Linked DNA regions of Homo sapiens. The protein of the gene in region 3 purifies or fractionates together with the protein of the main gene of each other region. This does not show direct contact. Each region holds a gene or a part of one and is shown on either strand. Other genes may lie near its edges.

What was found. Proteins that work in one complex are often made in the same cells at the same time.
Region 1: the proteins of SLCO3A1 (region 3) and TDP1 purify together in Homo sapiens (affinity purification with mass spectrometry; one large-scale study listed by BioGRID and IntAct). This does not show direct contact.
Region 2: the proteins of SLCO3A1 (region 3) and PNKD purify together in Homo sapiens (affinity purification with mass spectrometry; one large-scale study listed by BioGRID and IntAct). This does not show direct contact.
Region 4: the proteins of SLCO3A1 (region 3) and TMEM87A fractionate together in Homo sapiens (co-fractionation; one large-scale study listed by BioGRID). This does not show direct contact.

What each region holds. Positions count from the first base shown.
Region 1 is NC_000014.9:89,979,283-89,984,457, reverse strand, and holds part of TDP1 (tyrosyl-DNA phosphodiesterase 1), read right to left. Parts: intron 3,919-5,175; coding exon 3,826-3,918; exon of another isoform or gene 3,779-3,825; intron 2,996-3,778; exon of another isoform or gene 2,898-2,995; intron 1,345-2,897; exon of another isoform or gene 1,182-1,344; intron 1-1,181. UniProt on the Homo sapiens protein: DNA repair enzyme that can remove a variety of covalent adducts from DNA through hydrolysis of a 3'-phosphodiester bond, giving rise to DNA with a free 3' phosphate.
Region 2 is NC_000002.12:218,335,875-218,341,049, forward strand, and holds part of PNKD (probable thioesterase PNKD isoform 1 precursor), read left to right. Parts: intron 1-3,908; coding exon 3,909-4,024; intron 4,025-4,154; coding exon 4,155-4,267; intron 4,268-4,853; coding exon 4,854-4,912; intron 4,913-5,175. UniProt on the Homo sapiens protein: Probable thioesterase that may play a role in cellular detoxification processes; it likely acts on a yet-unknown alpha-hydroxythioester substrate.
Region 3 is NC_000015.10:91,855,824-91,860,998, reverse strand, and holds part of SLCO3A1 (solute carrier organic anion transporter family member 3A1), read right to left. Parts: intron 1-5,175. UniProt on the Homo sapiens protein: Putative organic anion antiporter with apparent broad substrate specificity.
Region 4 is NC_000015.10:42,211,160-42,215,077, forward strand, and holds part of TMEM87A (transmembrane protein 87A isoform 1 precursor), read right to left. Parts: intron 591-3,918; coding exon 549-590; 3' UTR 1-548. UniProt on the Homo sapiens protein: Potential monoatomic ion channel gated by mechanical force, implicated in normal touch sensitivity through the generation of mechanically activated currents.

The sequences.
Region 1 (5,175 bases), on a different chromosome or scaffold from region 3:
GTATCGATTATGCCTTCATCCTAAGAAAGAGGTGAATTCTCGGTATCTCCACATGGTAAGTAATCTTAGGAAACATGAAACATAAATCTGAGAACACCACTCCAATGGTTTCTCATCACATTCAGAATTATTCCTGAATGTCTTGCCATGAATTTAAGATTCAGTAAGACCTGGGCTCTGCCCACCTCTTCCAACCCACATCCCTCCATGCTCCCTCTCACTTGCCAAACCTTCCTTATTGCTCCTCTTACCTCTGCACCTATATATTGCTTTCTAAGACTTGATGACAAGAGTTAAGAATTCTACTCTTAACGGTTAAAGCAAATCCATGCTACTAGTGGTAATCCCAAGCAAGAATTTGCCCTTGTCTGCATCAATGCAGCTCTTCAGCCAAATGTGAAATAAGAATTGTGTTATCTATACCAAAAGTGCATGTGAAAAATCTATTTTCAATTAACAAACCCATTTTCATAACGTAGGTCCTATAGCAGCATATTTTTATGTCTTATACTTTCTGGTGCCTGGATTAAGTATATATCACATTCAGTGACATTACAATAACCTCAAACTTTCAACACTTAATTCACTGAAGAAGCATTACAGACATCTTTCATTTCATTAATTCTTTTTCCCTAGAGGAAAACAATGCTCTTTGCCAAAACTTCTACATTATATCCATAAATAGAAAACAATCATATCTAATCCCAATCCTTCTATAAACTGCTCCACAGTAGATTACTAAAATGGCTTCAAACCTCTTGTGCTTCAGTTTCTTCAAATGCAAAAAAGTGGGGTTAACAAGGCTGCCTCACTGGGCTGTTGCAAAGCAATGACTTACAGGAGCAGTCAAAAGTATCAGGTGTTACTTTTTTCCCCTTCTGTGGCTACTCTCCTTTTCCCCACCCTGGGTTCTATCTATTAAGCTGAAAGAGAAACTGCCCAATTTCTCTTTCACCTGGCAGCCCCTGAAGGAGACTGGCAAGATGCAGGCCACCAGGGCAGAAGGCATCCAGAACTGCAAGGACTCTCGGCCGTACATCTTCTCAACTCTGCAAGTTTCTAGCAAGGGGCATTTCATACCCCTGCTTCCCACCCTGGGGAGACACTTAGCACAGGAGGTAGCATGGTGTGATGAGGGCTGGAGCCCATGTTCTGGACCCAGATCGACTAGCTGACTATACCATTTTGGGTAAGCTCTGTGATCTCTCTGGGCCTTTGCCTCCGTGTGTAAAATGACCAGGTTGGGCTGGACAGACGTGGAGGACCTCCCCTTGCAATAGCACCTCAAAGTTCCCAGGCTGAGTGAGGCTCCTCCTGGATCAGAGATTCACTCACAGGTGAGTTCTGGATGAGAAACAAGACAAATGACTTTCTAAACTAAGATGCTGAGATATGAGGCATTTTTAACACATCACAAAATGAGAAAATTATTATAATGAGCCAAATAATTTTATTTTATTCTTTACTGTGAGCTTTGGATGCAACTCTTGTTCTAATTTTAAAAAGTGAGAAATCAACAGGTGGATCATGAGGCAGCTGAAGGGGATTAGCAGAACCACAGTAGACCAATTATGAAGTGAGATTGTATACAAAAACTGCTTTCAAAAGTTTTAAAATTACCACAAATAACATGAAATGCAAAACATTAGAGAGTAGAATATAGGCCAAGCATGAAATAATAGGATCCCACACCAGGATGGCTGCCAGAGGAAGATTTCATAGTCTTGGTACTTTCTGAGTTTTGAACCGTTCCTACCTAGTCAATAAGTTTTCCAAAATTTTAAATTAAAAAATACTTTTTTTAAATAAAAGAAACACCCAAGCCCTTATCCCTGCCTCTTCCCTCCTGGCAACCACCCCAGAGAATCCCAAGACAGTACTACTGCCTGTAAGCTAAGCTTCCAACTTCAGAAGGAGCTGGAGGCCCAGGGTGGGATTCTTGGAACCACGTGAGGCTGAGAGCTAACCTGAGAAATCCCTTTAGTAACATTGTTTCATGAGAACAAGCTACATTAATCTCATTGCCTTTTGATAGGGCCACATGAATCCCCAAACCCAATCTGGCAGCTCAGGAGAACTGGCTTAGAAGCTCTTGGGGTACCAAAGGCATAGTTAACCATAAATTCAGTAGATCAAGAAAGTGCTACAGCTGAGACTTAGAGACCAAGCAGCTATCCCCTCAACCCTGGACCAGTCAGAGCCACACTTCATTTTGAAAAGCATATTTTCAGTGGGATACTGAAAAATTATAACATGTTTATAGAAAAGCGACCAGGAATTACAGCTAGGGGTCTCAAAGCCACATGCTATGGTGGGGCAAGGGAGTGGGGAGGGAACAAGAGATGTAAGGCTCAGAAACAAGACTCCCTTTCAAACTCTGAAGGACTGCTTTAAGGGAGGGAGATTACATTTGTCCTGCGCAGTGCACTCAGGTTGAAGCAAGACCTGTTGAAGGAAACTGGAAAGCTATTTCAGCTCAAACTAAGATGTAACTTGGGGCCAGGCACGGTGGTTCATGCCTGTAATCTCAGCACTTTGGGAGGCTGAGGCAGGCGGATCACTTGGCAACTAGGCAAAACCTTGTCTCTACAAAAAATAAAGACAGTTAGCCAAGTGTGGTGGTACGTGCCTGCAGTCCCAGTTACCCAGAAGGCTGAGGTGGGAGGATCACCTGAGCCCAGGAGGTTGAGGTTAAAGTGAGCCGTGATCGCATCACAGCATTGTAACCTGGGTGACAGAGTGAGACCGTCTCAAAAAAACAAACAAAACAAAGATGTAACCTGGGCTCAGCAGAGCTTAGCTGAAAGTAATACACTCCAAATTAGGAGTTCTAGCCCAAGCTAGGCAATGATATGGGGCAGGGTGAGGCAGAGGAGGATGACAGAGAAAACGTGAACCTGGAAATGGTGCTAGACAAACGTCCGAGTTTCTCCCAACACAGAAGGCTGTTTGTTAACCAGCTCTTCTCTAGCACAGGCAGAGATGTACAAAATGGCTTAAACAAAAGAAAATTAAAGTTAGTCATAATCAAGAACAATAGCTGAACTTGTTGAGCAAATCCCTAAAGCTCCCTTTTAAAAAGCAAACCCCTCTTGAAAAGGGGATCAAAACCTGGATCTAGCATATGTGCACCAAGTACAGAGGGTTAGTAGTTTAAAAAGTTCATAAAAGCTTTCGTATTCAGTTCTTCTCTTGGAGATTCACAACTTTATTAACACACTAAAGGCTCTAAAAAGACACCAGCTTAAATTTGTTTCAAAGAAAATACACCAACTGGGGGAGTGGGGAAATATTTAGCACACTATTAACATGACCAGGCCCTACCCCAACTTTTCCTTTGATTCCTGTTTGGGAAGTGGTAAGCAAAAATACAGGTGGGTACATGAGTAAGGAGAAATCACAAAAGCTATCTGGTAAATCCTACTAGGAAAACAATAGGTTCAGATCTTTCATTCTGTAACCCCTTTTCTGCCTCAGATCTCTGCATGTGCTGTGCCCTCTACTTAGCTGTAGAGTGTATATGATGCCACTTCTCTAAAAACTAGGAAGAGACTACTGTGTGTAAATAGTAATGTATGTTTACATGTACAGCAGAGGTAGCTGTGGATGATGATGCTCCTGTTAACACTGGTTACCCCAAGAAGGTAGAATGGGGCAGGTAGTAAAAGAATACAGTAACTTTTTCTGCATACAACTCTTTTTCTAGGCCATGTGTGTTATTTTTACAACTTAAAAAAAAAATAGAAAAAAGAATAAAGTGAATGTTCTGGCTTTTGACCTTTATCAACACACACACTGCCAGGAAGTGAGCAGGCCCCTACGAACCCTTGAGTTTTCTGGTGCCAGTCAGCATGGATGAGGTTGGAGGTGTGTATGACAACCCGGAGGCCTTCTTCATAGAGCAGCAGCATCATTTTCCTTTAAAAACAGCAAAGGATCAAAAAGCATTAATAGTACTTTCAAAATATGTAATACCTTTCCAATGCAAATGTAATACATAGCTAAAGGAATTTTTTTAAACTCTCATATTACCCAAACTTAACATTTATAATCTTCCCTTCTATACATTACCATGATGAAAGTCTGCCTAAGTGATAGGATGAAAACCTTTCAGAAAGGTTGAGTATTTGGTGGTAAAAGAACTTTCAACCCTAGTGCCAGTCCTGGCACTTCACATCCCTCCAGCCTGGCCCCTTATTATCTATTCAGCATTACCTGTTACTACTAGGGACCGTTGGAACCTTCTGGTCTGGTGTTTGAGATTCAAAGTATGGTCAACAACCTCTTGCTGCATCATGGCTGGCATTTTTTAAACAACTAAAATAGCATAAATTGGTATACTGTATATATTTAATTACTGGTTCATGAAATTTTGTTTTGGCACAAAGGTATGTTAGTGCACAATACACTGAAATGTAAAGTGTATTTCTTATTATGAGTTGAAATTTTAAGAAGTTTAAAAGATGCTTCATTACCATTAGTGGTTTTTTGTATCCATAGATGCCACACTTGTCAAAAGTGTGTTATCTGGGCTTGGGGTAAGTCTTGCCTATTCTTCATTAACCCAAATCAGACTTAGTGGGGTCCACTCTTTTTCCATGTGACCTCCCCAGGCCTCTAGTCGAACACATTTCTCTTATTTTAATTGCAGTGAGAGAGAGGGAATAGGATATAGATAAAAGCTTTCCATTTGAAGTCTGAAGACCTGAGCTCCAGACTTTGTCATTTAGAAGCCCTTTGACCCTAGGTAAGCCATTCAATGTCCCCGAGCCTCAGTTTTCCACTTGTATCTCTAAGGATCAACCCCACTTCAGGACTATTGTGAGTGAAATGCAAAAATACATTTTGCTGCCAGGCACGGTGGCTCATGCCTGTAATCCCAGCACTTTGGGAGGCTGAGGCTGGCAGATCACCTGAGGTTAGGAGTTTGAGACCAGGCTTGCCAACATGGTGAAACCCATCTCCACTAAAAATATAAAAATTAGCTAGGTGTGGTCGTGGGCACCTGTAATCACAGCTACTAAGCAGGCTGAGGCAGGTGAATCAGTTGAAGCTGGGAGGCGGAGGTTGCAGTGAGCCGAGACTGCACCACTGCACTCCAGCCTGGGTGACAGAGTGAAACTCTGTCTCAAAAAAAAAAAAAAATTGTTAAATGTGAAACACTCTCACCTGTAC
Region 2 (5,175 bases), on a different chromosome or scaffold from region 3:
CTGAAGAGCGGCTGCCCCTGCTCCCACATACACGGTCAATCCTTGTAGAGACTTAGGGTCAGCCAGGCGTGGTGGCTCATGTCTGTAATCCCAGCACTTTGGGAGGCCAAGGCGGGTTGATCATGAGGTCAAGAGATTGAGACCATCTTGGCCAACATGGTGAAACCCTGTCTCTACTAAAAGTACAAAAATTAGCCAGGCGTGGTGGTGGGTGCCTGTAATCCCAGCTACTCGGGAGGCTGAGGCAAGAGAATCACTTGAACCCGGGAGGCAGAGGTTGCAGTGAGCCAAGATCGTGCCACTGCACTCCAGCACGGTGACAGAGTGAGACTCCATCTCAAAAAAAAAAAAAAAGTTTGGAAAAAATAGCCATTAAAAGTACTAAAATATGAAGCTTTTTTTCTTCTACAATCTCTATTTTGACCTGTGATGTTTTTAATTTGCTATTTAATGTCATTCTAAGTAAGAAGCATTTAAATTATTAGCAGGAATTTTACCATTTGCTTAATATTGTGCAATGCCTGTTTTAAATACAAATATAAGGACATTTAACTCCTGTAGAATCACAGAAACGACATAATTAATATTTCTTAGCTTATACATGGATGTGTATTTAGTTCTTACCAGGAGAGGGTCTCCTCTGTCACTCAGACTGGAGTGCAGTGGTGCAAACATGGCTCACTGCAGCCTTGACCTCCTGGGTTCAAGTGATCCTCCCACCTCAGCCTCCCAAGTAGCTGGGACCACAAGTGCATGCCACCATGCCTGCCTAATTTTTGCATTTTTAGTAGAGACAGGGTCTCGCCATGTTGCCCAGTCTGGTCTCAAAATCCTGGGCTCAAGCACTTCTTCCATCACCACCTCCGAAAGTGCTGGGATTACAGGAGTGAGTCACCACACCTGGCCTTCAATTCTTTTTTTTTTTTTTTTTTTTTTTTTCAGACAGAGTTTCACTCTTGTTGCCCAGGCTGGAGTGCAATGGTGTGATCTTCTTGGCTCACCGCAACCTCCGCCTCCCAGGTTCAAGTGATTCTCCTGCCTCAGCCTCCCAAGTAGCTGGGATTACAGGCGCCCACCACCACACCCTGTTAATTTTTGTATTTTTAGCAGAGATGGGGTTTTACCATGTTGGCCAGGCTGGTCTCCAATTCCTGACCTCAAGTGATCTACCAGCCTCTGCCTTCCAAAGAGCTGGGATTACAGGTGTGTGCCACTGCACCCAGCCTTCAATTCTTTTCTTTTTTTTTATTGAGATGGAGTCTCACTCTGTCGCCCAGGCTGGAGTGCAGTGGTGAGATCTCGGCTTACTACAACCTCAGCCTCCCAAGTAGCTAGGATTACAGGCGCCTGCCACCACGCCCAGCTAATTTTTGTAGTTTTAGTAGAGATGGGGTTTCACTATCTTGGCCAGGCTGGTCTTGAACTCCTGACCATGTGATCCACCTGCCTTGGCCTCCCAAAGTTCTGAGATTACAGGCATGAGCCACCGCGCCCGGCCTTCAATTCTTAATACGTGCACATTCTGCCAGCACTGTTGGCTTGCTAGTTAATAAGGAAGGATGGAAAGGAAAAGGATGGATTGGTTACCCTATCTTCCCTTTCCTTTCTATATCGCTATTTGCAGCATAAATAGGTGGATAACACAAAAGCAAGAAAGGATGCAGCAGAGTTCCTTGGTCATTCGTGTTTCTTAGAACACCTCTGTCTTTGTGCACTTGAAGCACGTTCTAGTTTGAACTGAAAGCTTGGCCTCTTGGGTCAGTCATAGGTGTGCACTCGCCTTGTACTTGCTTTGAGTCTTGTTGAACTCCCATGCGTTGTGTGTCCCCCAGATTTGTGTGCTCATGGGCATTGCAGACTCTGTATAGGTATGATAAGCGAGGAACGGAGCACACTCACTGTGTGTGTCTCTTGCTCCCTGCATGTCCCACTGTCCTATCAGGCTCCACTTGCAAGACACAAGGTCAAAGATAAAATCATTAAGAATTTCAGGGTCGGGCACGGTGGCTCACCCCTGTAATCCCAGCACTTTGGGAGGCCAAGGTGGGCAAATCACGAGGTCAAGAGATCGAGACCATCCTGGCCCACATGGTGAAACCCCATCTCTATTAAAAATACAAAAATTAGCTGGGTGTGGTGGTGCACGCCTCTAGTCCCAGCTACTCAGGAGGCTGAGGCAGGAGAATCGCCTGAACCTGGGAGGCAGAGGTTGCAGTGAGCTGAGATTGCACCACTGCACCCCTGCCTGACGACAGAGTGAGACTCCCTCTCAAAAACAAACAAACAAACAAAAATTTCAGGCTTGGCCAGGCACAGTGGCTCACACCTGTAATCCCAGCACTTTGAAAGGCCGAGGCAGGCGGATCACCTAAGGTCAGGAGTTTGAGACCAGCCTGGCCAACGTGGCAAAACCCTGTCTCTACTAAAAATACAAAAAATTGCCGGGCATGGTGGTGTGAGCCTGTAATCCCAGCTACTCGGGAGGCTGAGGCAGGAGAATCACTTGAACCTGGGAGGTGGAGGTTGCAGTGAGCCGAGATTGCACCACTGCACTCCAGTCTGGGCAACAGAGCGAGACTCTGTCTCAAAAAAAAAAAAAAAAGAATTTCAGGTGGGACACGGTGGCTCACACCTGTAATCCTAACACTTTGGGAGGCCAAGGCAGGAGGATTTGTTGAGCCCAGGAGTTCGAGACCAGCCTAGACAACAAACTGAGACCCCATCTCTACAAAAAAGATAATTGGGATTACAGGTGCCCATCACCACACCCGGCTAATTTTTGTATTTTTAGTAGAGACGGGGTTTCACCATGTTAGTCAGGCTGGTCTTGAACTCCTGACCTCAGATGATCCACCTGCCTCGGCCTCCCAAAGTGCTGGGATTACAGGCGTGAGACACCACACCCAGCCTCAGATGATTTTTTTTTTTTTTTTTTTGAGACAGGGTCTTGTTTTGTCACCCAGGCTGGAGTACAGTGGTGCAATCATGGCTTACTGCAGCTTCACCCTCCCGGGCTCAAGCAATCCTCCTGCCTCAGCTACCTGAGTAGCTGGGACCACAGGCGTGTGCCACCACGCCCAGCTATTCTTTTTTTTGTGTGTGTAGAGACCCTATAGGGCACAATGTTGCCCAGGCTGGTCTCGAACTCCTGGGCTCAAGTGATCCTCTCTCCTTCCCTCCCAAGGTGCTGGGATTACAGGTGTGAGCCACTGTACCCAACCTTCTTCAGATGATTAGGATGCATGCTAAAGTCTGACCACCACTGTTCTTTCTGAAATATTTTTTCTACCTCATTTCAGCCTCCTAATTCCTACTCCTTCTTCCCTGCAAATGTCACTTCATCAGAGGTGCTAGACCCTGGGCTAGATTAAACCCCTCACTCTCCAAGTCTCTCTTTTTTTTTAGACAGAGTCTCACTCTTTGGCCTGGGCTGCAGTGCAGTGGTGCGATGCCCAATTCTCCTGCCTCAGCCTCCTGAGTAGCTGGGACTACAAGCGTGTGCCACCACACCCGACTAAGTTTTGTATTTTTAGTAGAGACAGGGTTTCGCCATGTTAGTCAGGCTGGTCTCGAACTCCTGACCTCAGGTGATCCGCCCACCTCGGCCTCCCAAAGTTCTGGGATTACAGGTGTGAGCCACTGCGCCTGGCCTCTCCAATTTTCTTCTGTGAGTTCCTCAGTTCATGTCTCCCTGATAGATTTTGAGTTCTAGGTGTGTCCGTCTCATTCTCCATCTTGTCCTGAGTGCTAAGCAGGGCAAACAGTAGGCACATAATAAGTGAGAGTGGAATTGCATTGGCTCACAGGGTCACCAAAGGAATGGAGATGTGGGGCCTGCAGGCATCACGAAGGAGTCTAGGGGAGCTAGGGAGAAAAGGCTAATCATAGGCCACCCACTCGCCCTCTAGGTACAGCCTGTACACCCGCACCTGGCTCGGGTACCTCTTCTACCGACAGCAGCTGCGCAGGGCTCGGAATCGCTACCCTAAAGGCCACTCGAAAACCCAGCCCCGCCTCTTCAATGGTGAGCTCTGACTGCCCCGGCCAGCATCCCCCATTCTGTGCCCCCACCCTCCCCGCCTGCTCCCCTTCACATACCCCAGCCCCTGGGCTCCCTGCCTGTTACCCCGCCCACAGCCCATCTCTGTCCCCAGGAGTGAAGGTGCTTCCCATCCCTGTCCTCTCGGACAACTACAGCTACCTCATCATCGACACCCAGGCCCAGCTGGCTGTGGCTGTGGACCCTTCAGACCCTCGGGCTGTGCAGGTGAGGGGAGGGCAGGGAGCAGGGGGTGCCTGGAGTCACCTTGGGGACTGGCAGTTTCGCCTTGCTAGAGAGGGCTGACCCTTGTCCGTCTGCCCGTGGGATGTGTCCCATATGCTCCATGTTCACACGTGCACATGCGCACACATAGCCTGGGGAAGGGGGGTACAGGGCATGGCTGGGCAGAAGGGGAGAGCAGGAGTGGGGGATGCAGAGCCAGAGGGCTGGGGGTGTTGGCCCAGGACTCTGGGTCTAGTGAGTTTCCAGGCTGGCTTTCACTCCCATTGGCCCCCTTCAGACCCCCTTTCTTTCTGTCACCTCTGTCTGTCAGTATCTGGGTCTCTCTGTCTTTCCCTCCCATTCCTTATCTCTCTGTGTCTGCCTCTCTCTATGTACAAGTGTCCCTCTGCCTCCATGTGCCCCGTGCTTCACATTCCTGGATCTCTCCCCTCCAGCTCCATCCCTTTCCTCTGCTTCATCTCTCCATGCTCTCCTCTCCTCTCCACCAGCGCCCACACTCCTGGCTCTTGCTGCTTCAAGTGCCTCTTGCATCCTGCTCCCCAGTCTCCAAACCTCCTCTCTCTCGCAGGCTTCCATTGAAAAGGAAGGGGTCACCTTGGTCGCCATTCTGTGTACTCACAAGCACTGGTAAGGGGCTCCCGTCTTCCCTGGCCCACCCTTGTCCCAGCTGGGCTTGCCAGGACTGGGCCCATTGAGGACGGCCGGGGCCAGAGATCAAGAAGTCAGTACGGGCCGGCACCCGCCTTCCTCGTGAAGTCACCTGGACACCAGCAGGGAGGGAGGAGAGGGGACAGTCTCCCACCACTCCATTGATCAAGCTTCTGAAGCCCCAGAGGGCAGGGCAGTCATTTCTCTTTCATTTCATGGGCATGTATTAGATACCTACTGCA
Region 3 (5,175 bases):
AAGACTACAGATGGAACGGGAGTGGTGTTGTGCAGAAGGTATGTCCGTAAGCCGAGATGGATGAATCCATGGGATGGGAAACCAGGTTGCAGGAACAGGTCCATTGTTCTGCTTATGAGAAACCAAAAAAAAAGACCAAGCGTGGGGAAATGCCCACAGACCTGCTTGCCAGAGTCCACTTAATACTGCAAGAGAACACGAGGTGAAGGCAGCAGACAAGACGTGAGACCTGAGCCCCTCTGGGCAACCAAGGCTGAGCTCTGCGAAGGCACGTTTTAAACAAGGCTGCCTGGAGGGCAGCATATGTCCACAACATATGTCCCTTTGTCCTCGCCCTCCTGACACCTCGGGCTCCCTTGAATTGGTCACTCAGCCTTTCAGCCAGTGAAGCAGAGCAAGCTTCAGGAGCCCAGATCACCAGTTTAGGAAACAGAAGCCTTGGCCTCACACAATATTCCAAATCCTCAGCTCCCTGGGAGGGACTTTTGTTGGTGCTAATGTCAACGAGCAGGGTTATACCATTACTGTTAAAGCAACTGTGGAATACTGTACCCTATGAGAAGTACTCTATCACATGACTATTTGTTTAAACCTCACAACCATCTGTAAGATAAGCTTGATCATTATCCCCATTTTTCAGATGAGGCTATTGAGGCTCGAGTAAGTGAAGTTGCCAGGAGCTGGGAAATAGCAAGTCTAAGTTCAAATCCAGGTCTTCCAACTCCAAGTCCAACATTCTTTCCACCTACCCTCAGCCTTCAGCACCCAGTGGCCACAGACCACAGCAAGAGATACTGAGGACCTCCCAAAGTGAAGCATCAGGGTACCTGCCCCGCCCAGCCAGTCCTGCCTGCCCTGCTTTAACCTCCTTCAAGTACCCATGGACTGTAAATGATCAACATGAATCACCATTCCTGCAGTGGGCTCCTCTCCCATGTGACTAATTTTTATAGCATCTTTAAGATGAAATGGATTGCTATATTTATAAGGGAATAAACAGAATTAGCAACTGATATTTAGCTTATTACTTGCCCTTAAAAACTTTTTACCTCCCAGACAAAAATGTCCATGTAGAATAGGAAACTACTTGAATATGCAATTCACTAAACCAAAACTAAAGTTTAATTGAAATAATTTTATTTCTCATTGGTTGGGGCTACACGGTTATTATGTTTGCAGTAAATATGCATAACCATATTATTATTAATAGTAATAGCTAATATTTCCTGGGCACTCACTATGTGCCAGATATTGTTCAAGGTGCTTTACATGTACTGACTCAGTTCATCCTCACAGCAAAACAGAGGGTAGGTACTATTATAACCCCAGTTATAAAATGAAAAATTGAGGTACACAGAGATTAAGTAAACAGCTCAAGGTCACAGAGCAGGTAAGGGGAGGACATAGGCATGAATCCCAGTCTTCTAACACTCATCGAATAAGCGACAGCTGCCACAGACACTTGCCTTTCTCCACCTTGGAACTGTAATCATTTAACTTGGAGTTTTAACCATTAAGCAATAATTTGTCTCATGCTAACACATAAACACTTAGGCTACATAAAATACAAGTGTCTTTGAATCACATCAATTCATTTATCCTATGAGCCAAGGTCCATGATTCCACTGTTTTTCCTGTTTATATCTGTTTTCCAGATACAGACATAGAAACCGAAAATAAAAATGAATTGAAAGAGTAAGGATGCTATCTTTCTGGCCTACAGATTACCAAAGGCATTTCCGAGAGGCAAGAAAATACCGAGATTTTCTTCAGGGGAGAACGGTTCCAAATCCATGTGTCAACCATACAGTCAAAGTTACCATTGAAATGTCCCTTCGCACCTTCAAAAAGTATGGCATACAATATTCATTGTATGCAACGCTGTACACAAACACGTATGTAAATATGCAATGCATGCGGCAATGTACAGAATAGAGTACATATGCAGAAGAGAAGTACTTTGACTCCACTTTAGAGAAACATGCTTATTAAATGATGCATGTAGTGAAATCTGCGCGAGTTGGAACTAAAGCCAGAGAAATGCAGCTAGTAGGGAGTTTTATTCTTCACTCTTTCTGCATGAAATGCAGCTGTATCCTCATCATTTTTGCAATACTACCCTTGTTCATCCAGGCCAATCTGCTAAGAGAATACAGTCCCTGATCAAGGCAGCACCTCAAAGTTTGCTTTTAGGTGTGCAAAATAAATTCACAGAGACCCTGTTGGTGGGGCTGCCTTTGCCCAGCAGTTCACCAATGACTTCGTGCAAGAAGCAGCCCATGCAGCATAACAGAAAACACGATTCCAGCAGCACCCAAGATGAGCTGCAAATGCTGGGCAATTGATTAGCAAGGCGGTGCCACTGCAGAGAGGCCTCTTGGCGATCCTTTTCATAAGGTGTCTAAAATTGAATGAGGGGAAGAGTTAACAAAATGCAGGATAGAGCCCTCGCTCATTTTACAACTCATTCAGTTTCTTCTATTGTTAAATACACCAACAAAAACCCCCTCACAAACAAAGATAAATACACAAACCTGGCTGAAAAGAATTTTCAGAAACACCTTTTTCCCTTAATAATTATTAACATTTTGAATCTAGCTATAAGGAAAAAAAAAATCAAGGTAATTTTATTTCTTACTACCTGGGGCTACATAGTAATTATGGAAATGGCAAGGAATTTTGTCACTTTGAGTAAGCATAAGTGTATAAAATAATTTGATTAAATAAAATACGGTTACCTTAGTCATCATAGTAATTTGACAAGGACTTTAAAAATGTCTCTCTCTGTTGAAAATGTCAACAGACAGTTTCCTGAGCTGTCTGCTTCTGGGTTGAATATGCAGAAACTCATCTTCGAAATGATGTTTCTTTAGAAAAAAAAAAGGAGTAACAAACCTAGCAGTTTCGCCTCACCCATTAATTGCAAGCCCACTTGACTATTCTCAGGCTGAAAGAAAAAGTGTGACTACAAAGCAGTGAGATAGAGCCTCATTAACCACACTCAGTCATCTATGTCATTATTTTGTCACCACAACCTCAAACTTATTTTTCTATAACTCTAAATAGGGAAATACCTACCCCTTGTTCACAGGAACTCCCTTTGTGCCCCACCCAGGAAACTAGACTGGCCTTTTTTCAGTTTTCAACCTGAGGAAATTCAAATGTATTTGTATGTATGCCTCAAACTAATCATCTAGAAGTGTCAGAGGCTTTAATTTCCTGTACACACCCTTATCTACTCCAGTCCTCAGTAATTTGATACCACACAGAAACCTCTATATGCAGGGCTACCCTCAGCGAGTGGCTTAAAACATTTTAGGGGGTCTCTGCAAAACACCAATAGGCACACACAAAATGACTTTCTCCCCATGCAGTTCTCATATGCCTGCATCTTCTCCAACCAGTCCAAGACTTAAGCACATGTTACATCCTTGCAAACAGGACTGGAGCCACTCGAAGCCAAAACCCAAGTAGAAGAAAATTAAATTGCATTCTCTGTTCCATACAAAATGACTATCAAACCGAGCAGGCCTCTCCTCTTATGCTGCAAAAATTATGTCATAGCCAGTCAGGAGGTTTAGGTGACTATGATGGAACATCCCTGTGACTATTGGTTTATCTGAAGCATGGTTTCCAGTTAAGATGTTTGTAACCGTAATAGATTTCAGAATCCACAGTTGGCCCAGGTTGCACCTGGGTTACTTTATCTAGATCACTGAGTCTGGCTTTCAGGATCAGTGTCTTTCTGTACTGCCTGACACCAAGGCAAAAGTTGCAGGCCCCCAGCCTAGCCTAACAATTGATGGCCTTATATACAATACAGTTTTCCTTTGAGTTTCCTCCCTGGGCAGGTTCTTGGTGGAAAACAAACACATGCATACATACACACACACACAGACACACACACACATTTTCTCTCTCTCTCTCTCACACACACACACACACACACACACACACACACACACACACGAGTCCTCCTTCTCAAAGTTGCTTCTTAAATCACAGGCAACCTTCTGCTTCAGTTCTGCAGTTGGGAAGCCTACACTAGTGTCATTCAGGACACTGAGAAATTTGTCTTTTCAGAAAAAAATAAGGAAATGAAACTGCAATATTTTAAGGCACCTGGGGAGATGAAATAAGAAGGTGGACTCTGGGAATCTAATAGGAAATAACATCGTTGGCATAGAATTTGTAACCACCCTCCTCTCTGTGAAAGGGAGCATTACTGGCACTGTCCCAAGGCAAGTCCTTCCTCAAGTATCTGGAAATGCCTCATTAGAGAGGCAGGCTGATTGCCAAGGTAAGGATCACGTATAACGCACACTTAGCACGTGGACCCTGCCCTGTGGTCCCCTACAGACACAAGGTCTCAGGTTTCCTAAGAAAGCCATGATGAATTAAAAGGAAGAAATGTGCCTTTCCTGCAAACAGCCTGCAATATTTCATTCTCCAATTATCCACAGAGAAGTCTCGCATGGCTGAAGGAGCAAACTTTTTTTCCCCATCTCCCAAATAACAGATGAAGAGAAAACTCTGAAGTGGCCCAGAAGAGCAAAGCCCATAGCAAGCTGCGTCAGTCAACCCTGACAAGCCAACTATTTATTTTCATGAGGCTCCGATGGCAAGGCAAAGACGAGGGCAGCCGGGCAAAGCAGAGCCCTTAGAGCCTTATGCCTCCACTCCTAGTAATCAAAATGAATTCAATTTCCTAGGCCTGTCCTCTCCTGGGCCTCCAGCTGCTTTCTGCAAGTCACCTGTTGACTCCTGTTACCCTACCCCACCCAACCAGGCTTTCCATCAGCGAAGGCTAGAAGTGCCAGGATGCCGCCACCAGGTGGACCGAATTCCTCCTCTGCTTGCCATTCCCCTGTTCTGGGATTAAAGTCAACCTCCTATCTCCTGGGGCCAGCCCTGCCTCCAGAAGTCCACCACTCCAGGAGTACTCGGCTTCTTAACTTTCTAAAGGAGCTAGGCCATTCATCTAGTTGCAGCCCAGCTTCATTTATTTGTCAAATCCTTAGATCACTGCAACCGAAAAATAGTAAGCCCACGCTTTTATCACTCCTGGGGTGAAAAGTTCTGCGGGTGTTTGCCACACATGAATAATGCACTCTACCGAGCAAAATTGGTTTGAGGCAAACAAACCGTTAAAGTGGAGGCAGCTGTTGATATACT
Region 4 (3,918 bases), about 50 Mb from region 3:
CATTGATAGAACTATGGCTCCTTAACTCAGAAGGGCCCTTTTTTCTCAAAACAACCTCTGCAAGATGTAACCTTGACTTCCCAGGAAAATGAAAGGTAGTTAACAATTTCCCCCATCACCTATGTAACTCCCTAAATAAATAAAAATTACAGGCAGTTGCTCCTGGAGATTACATATTATGGTGTTGATGACAATCTTTTAGAAGACGTTAAACTTTTTAGTTTGTCAGATTTAAAAAATGAAACATTACAGAAAGTTCAGGAACAACACACTTAAGTTGCATGAACATCCATGTCAGAGTCTGGGAGGAAAGGGGGCAGCAGTGTTGTAAATAAGAAGCTCGTAGATTTTTCTCATCTTATGAACTTGTTTTCAGTAAGATGTTCTCTTTGTTCTGACACCTCTCGCCAACTCCAATGCCCAAAGATCAAGGAACAGATCAGGATGTCATTGCTTCCTTTAATCCCATGGAGCCGTACAGAAGACTGACACAGATGCTGATCTCTTCCCTGATGGTAGCCATCTTTAACTGCAAATCTTCCCATTCCTTACTCCATTTTGGACCTTTCAAAGTGTGTGATCATTCGTTCCTAGGGAAAAAAAAAAAGGTTGAAGTATATTAGGTTAAAATGATCTATATTCCAAATATCTTCTATACAGACTATCCAAGCAAACATCTTCCACGAGTACTTTATGTTAATTAAATGTTTAGAGAAATGGTTCCTAAACATTTGTGAAGATTTTGAACATACAGATGTCCAGACCTCACCCAAGAACAACTAAATCAAAAGCTCTAGGCTTCTGGACAGAAAATCAGCACTCAGAAGGAAATGTATAGAGTCAGCTAAGATCTTATGTAAACAAATATTTACATAAGATTAGGCTTTAATAAAAATGTGTAACTCCTCTAATTCAGGAATTTCACTTGAAGACCCAGTGAAGGATGAGGGCAAAGACGTGCACCTAGTTAGCACTTTGCACTTTAGAATGGTTAGGAGGGTTGATTTGTTATGTGTTTTTTACTACACTTTTTAAAAATCATGTAAAAAATAAAATTACATTTAATTTAATATAGTATTTACAGTATCCCATTTCAATTAAAATAATTAATGTACTACCCTTAAATTTCCCTTCTTAGGCAATTTTATACCTTAGAGTTAATTTTCATTTTTCTTTTGCTTCATTTGCGAAGTACCTCTCACTATTGTATCACAAACTGACAGAACTACAAATCCTTTTTGAATATAATCAATCACATCAGATAATCTATAGATGTTTCCCTTTTTCTTAAAAATATCCTTTCCGATGCTCTCTGTTCTCCACTCCATCCAAGCCTGGTGCCCAGCTGCCAACCTGAGAATTTCTTACATCATACTGGGAATTTTTCTTGTCTCTGTGTTGGACCCTTTATTTCCTAGATCCCAAGTCTTTTTCCTAGCTTCCTCATTTTTGTGGAGAACATTTTCCCCTACTTTCTTCAGAAACTGCATATAGAACATCAATTATTTTACTTCTTGTGTGACTAGAAACATCTTTATTTTACCCTCATAATGATAGTTTAGTTGAGTACAGAATTCTAGGTTGAAAATGATTTTCCTCAGAATTCAAAGGCTTTGTTCTGGCTCCCAAAGATGTTGTTGAAGAGCCTTATGCCATTTTGATTCCTGGTCCATCATGTAAATTGTTTCTCCTGTAATTCATTTAAGGTCTTTTTCAGTTTTAAGGGAAAAAAAGGCCTTGGAGAAAGTGATGTCAGCAAGATGACAGAATAGGAAGCCCTGGACACTCCTTCCCTCTACAGACACACTGATTCAATAACACATGGAAAAATTCCCTTTGTGGGAAATCCAGAAACCAGTTGAGGGTCTTCTGCACTATAGGAAAGCATGAAACCAGCTGAATCAAAGTCGGCAGAAAAACCTGAGGCACCCTCTTGCCATAATTCTTCCCTTCCCATGGACCCAGCACAGTACCACATGATAGAGAGGAAACCCTCAGCTCCCAGCTTCTTTTTGCAGAGGGAAGGAAATGACTGGAATGTACATCCAACATTCTGACTTTTCTGGAACCTGCACGAGAGACTGTTTTCTGTCTTGCCTGAGTCCGAGAGCTAAAAACAAAGGGCCCAGGTTGGAAGTTGCTGAAATCAAAGTGGAAGTTTGGACTAGCAAGCATGAGCTCACTACAGCCGCTCCCCCAGCTCAGTGCAGAGTAAGCAGGTAGAATCCCCAACATCCCCAAATCCTAGCTTTTCCCTAGGGAGGAGAGATGGACTGTGAAAATGTTCCAACTTTGTAAGAGGTTACCTGAGGGAATGGTTTCTGTAGGGAATGGTTTGAAGCACAGATGGGACCAGTATATTTTAGGTGCCTGGGGCCAGTATGAACAAAAAAAGAGCTGGGCTATGCCACTGGCTCCAGGAGACCCATGATACAGCAGATAAACACAAAAGGGAGCAAGAGATTATAAATTCCTGGGGAGGGAAAAACCCAGCAAATCCCTCTGATTGGGAATACATATGCAGAAGTCCAGAAAAGACATAATACAGAGTGGGTTAGAGAGGCTATCAGAATGATTGATGAGGGTGTTCTCCTGTACAATGCCAGTCCATGAACACTGGAAAGGTAACTGTTTTTTTTTCTAATGCAATGAAACCAACACAAAGAATTAAGGAAAATAGAGAATCAGTGAAACATGGCCCAAACAAAGGAAGAAGATAAATCTCTGGAAACCAACCCCAGTGAAACAGAGGTATAGGAATTATTTGAAAGAGAATGCAAAACAACTATCATGAAGATGTTCAACGAACTCAGGAGAACAATGCATGAACAAAGTAAGAATTTCAATAAAAATATACAAAACATTTTTAAAAATATGCCAAGAAACTGGATAACCTAGAACAAAATATATAATTCCTAGAAGTATACAATCTACCAAGACTGAATCATCAAGGAATAGAAAATCCGGGGGGGGAACACACAACCTGGTAAGACCTACAACAAGATTCCATCAGTAATCAAAAACATCCCAACAAAAAAACAGCCCAGGACCAGATGGCTTCTTTAGTTGAGTCCTACCAGGTACTTAAAGACAAAGTAACACTAATCCTTCTTAAACGCTTTCAAAAAAATTAAAGACGAAAACATTTATTTGGAAGGAACTTCCAAACTTATTCTATGAGGCCAGCATTACCCTAATGCCAAAGCCAAAGACATGACAAGAAGAGAAACGACAGGCCAATATCCCTGATGAGCAGACGCAAAAATCTTCAATGAAACAATGGAAAACAGAATTTAACGGCACGTTGAAAGAATCACATACTATGACCAAGTGGAACAAAATAGAAAGCCCAGAAATAAAACTACACATACATGGTCAACTGATCTTCGAAAAGAGAGACAACACTACACAGTGGGGAAACTGACAGTTTCCTCAACAAATGGTGCTGGAAAAACTAGATATTCACATGAGAAAGAATGAAAGTAACTCATCTTCACTATACACAAAAATCAACTCAAAATAGATTAAAGACTTAGACAAGTCAAAATAGATTAAAGAATTAGACATAAGATTTGAAACCACAAAACTCCTAGAAGACAACCTAAGTTTCTTGAAATTGGTCTTAGCAGTGATTTCTTGTCTAAGACACCAAAAGCACAAAACAAGAGCAAAACAGACCAATGGGACTACATCAAACTAAAAAGCTTCTGCACAGCAAGGGAAGCACACAACAGAATGAAAAGCAACCTACAGAATTGGAGAAAATATTTGCATACTACATACAGTCACGTATACTTAATGATAGGGATACATTCTGAGAACTGCATCATTAGGCAATTTCATAGCTGTGTGAACTTCACAGAATATACTTACACAAATCTAGATGTTATATAGCCTACTACATACCTCGGCTATATG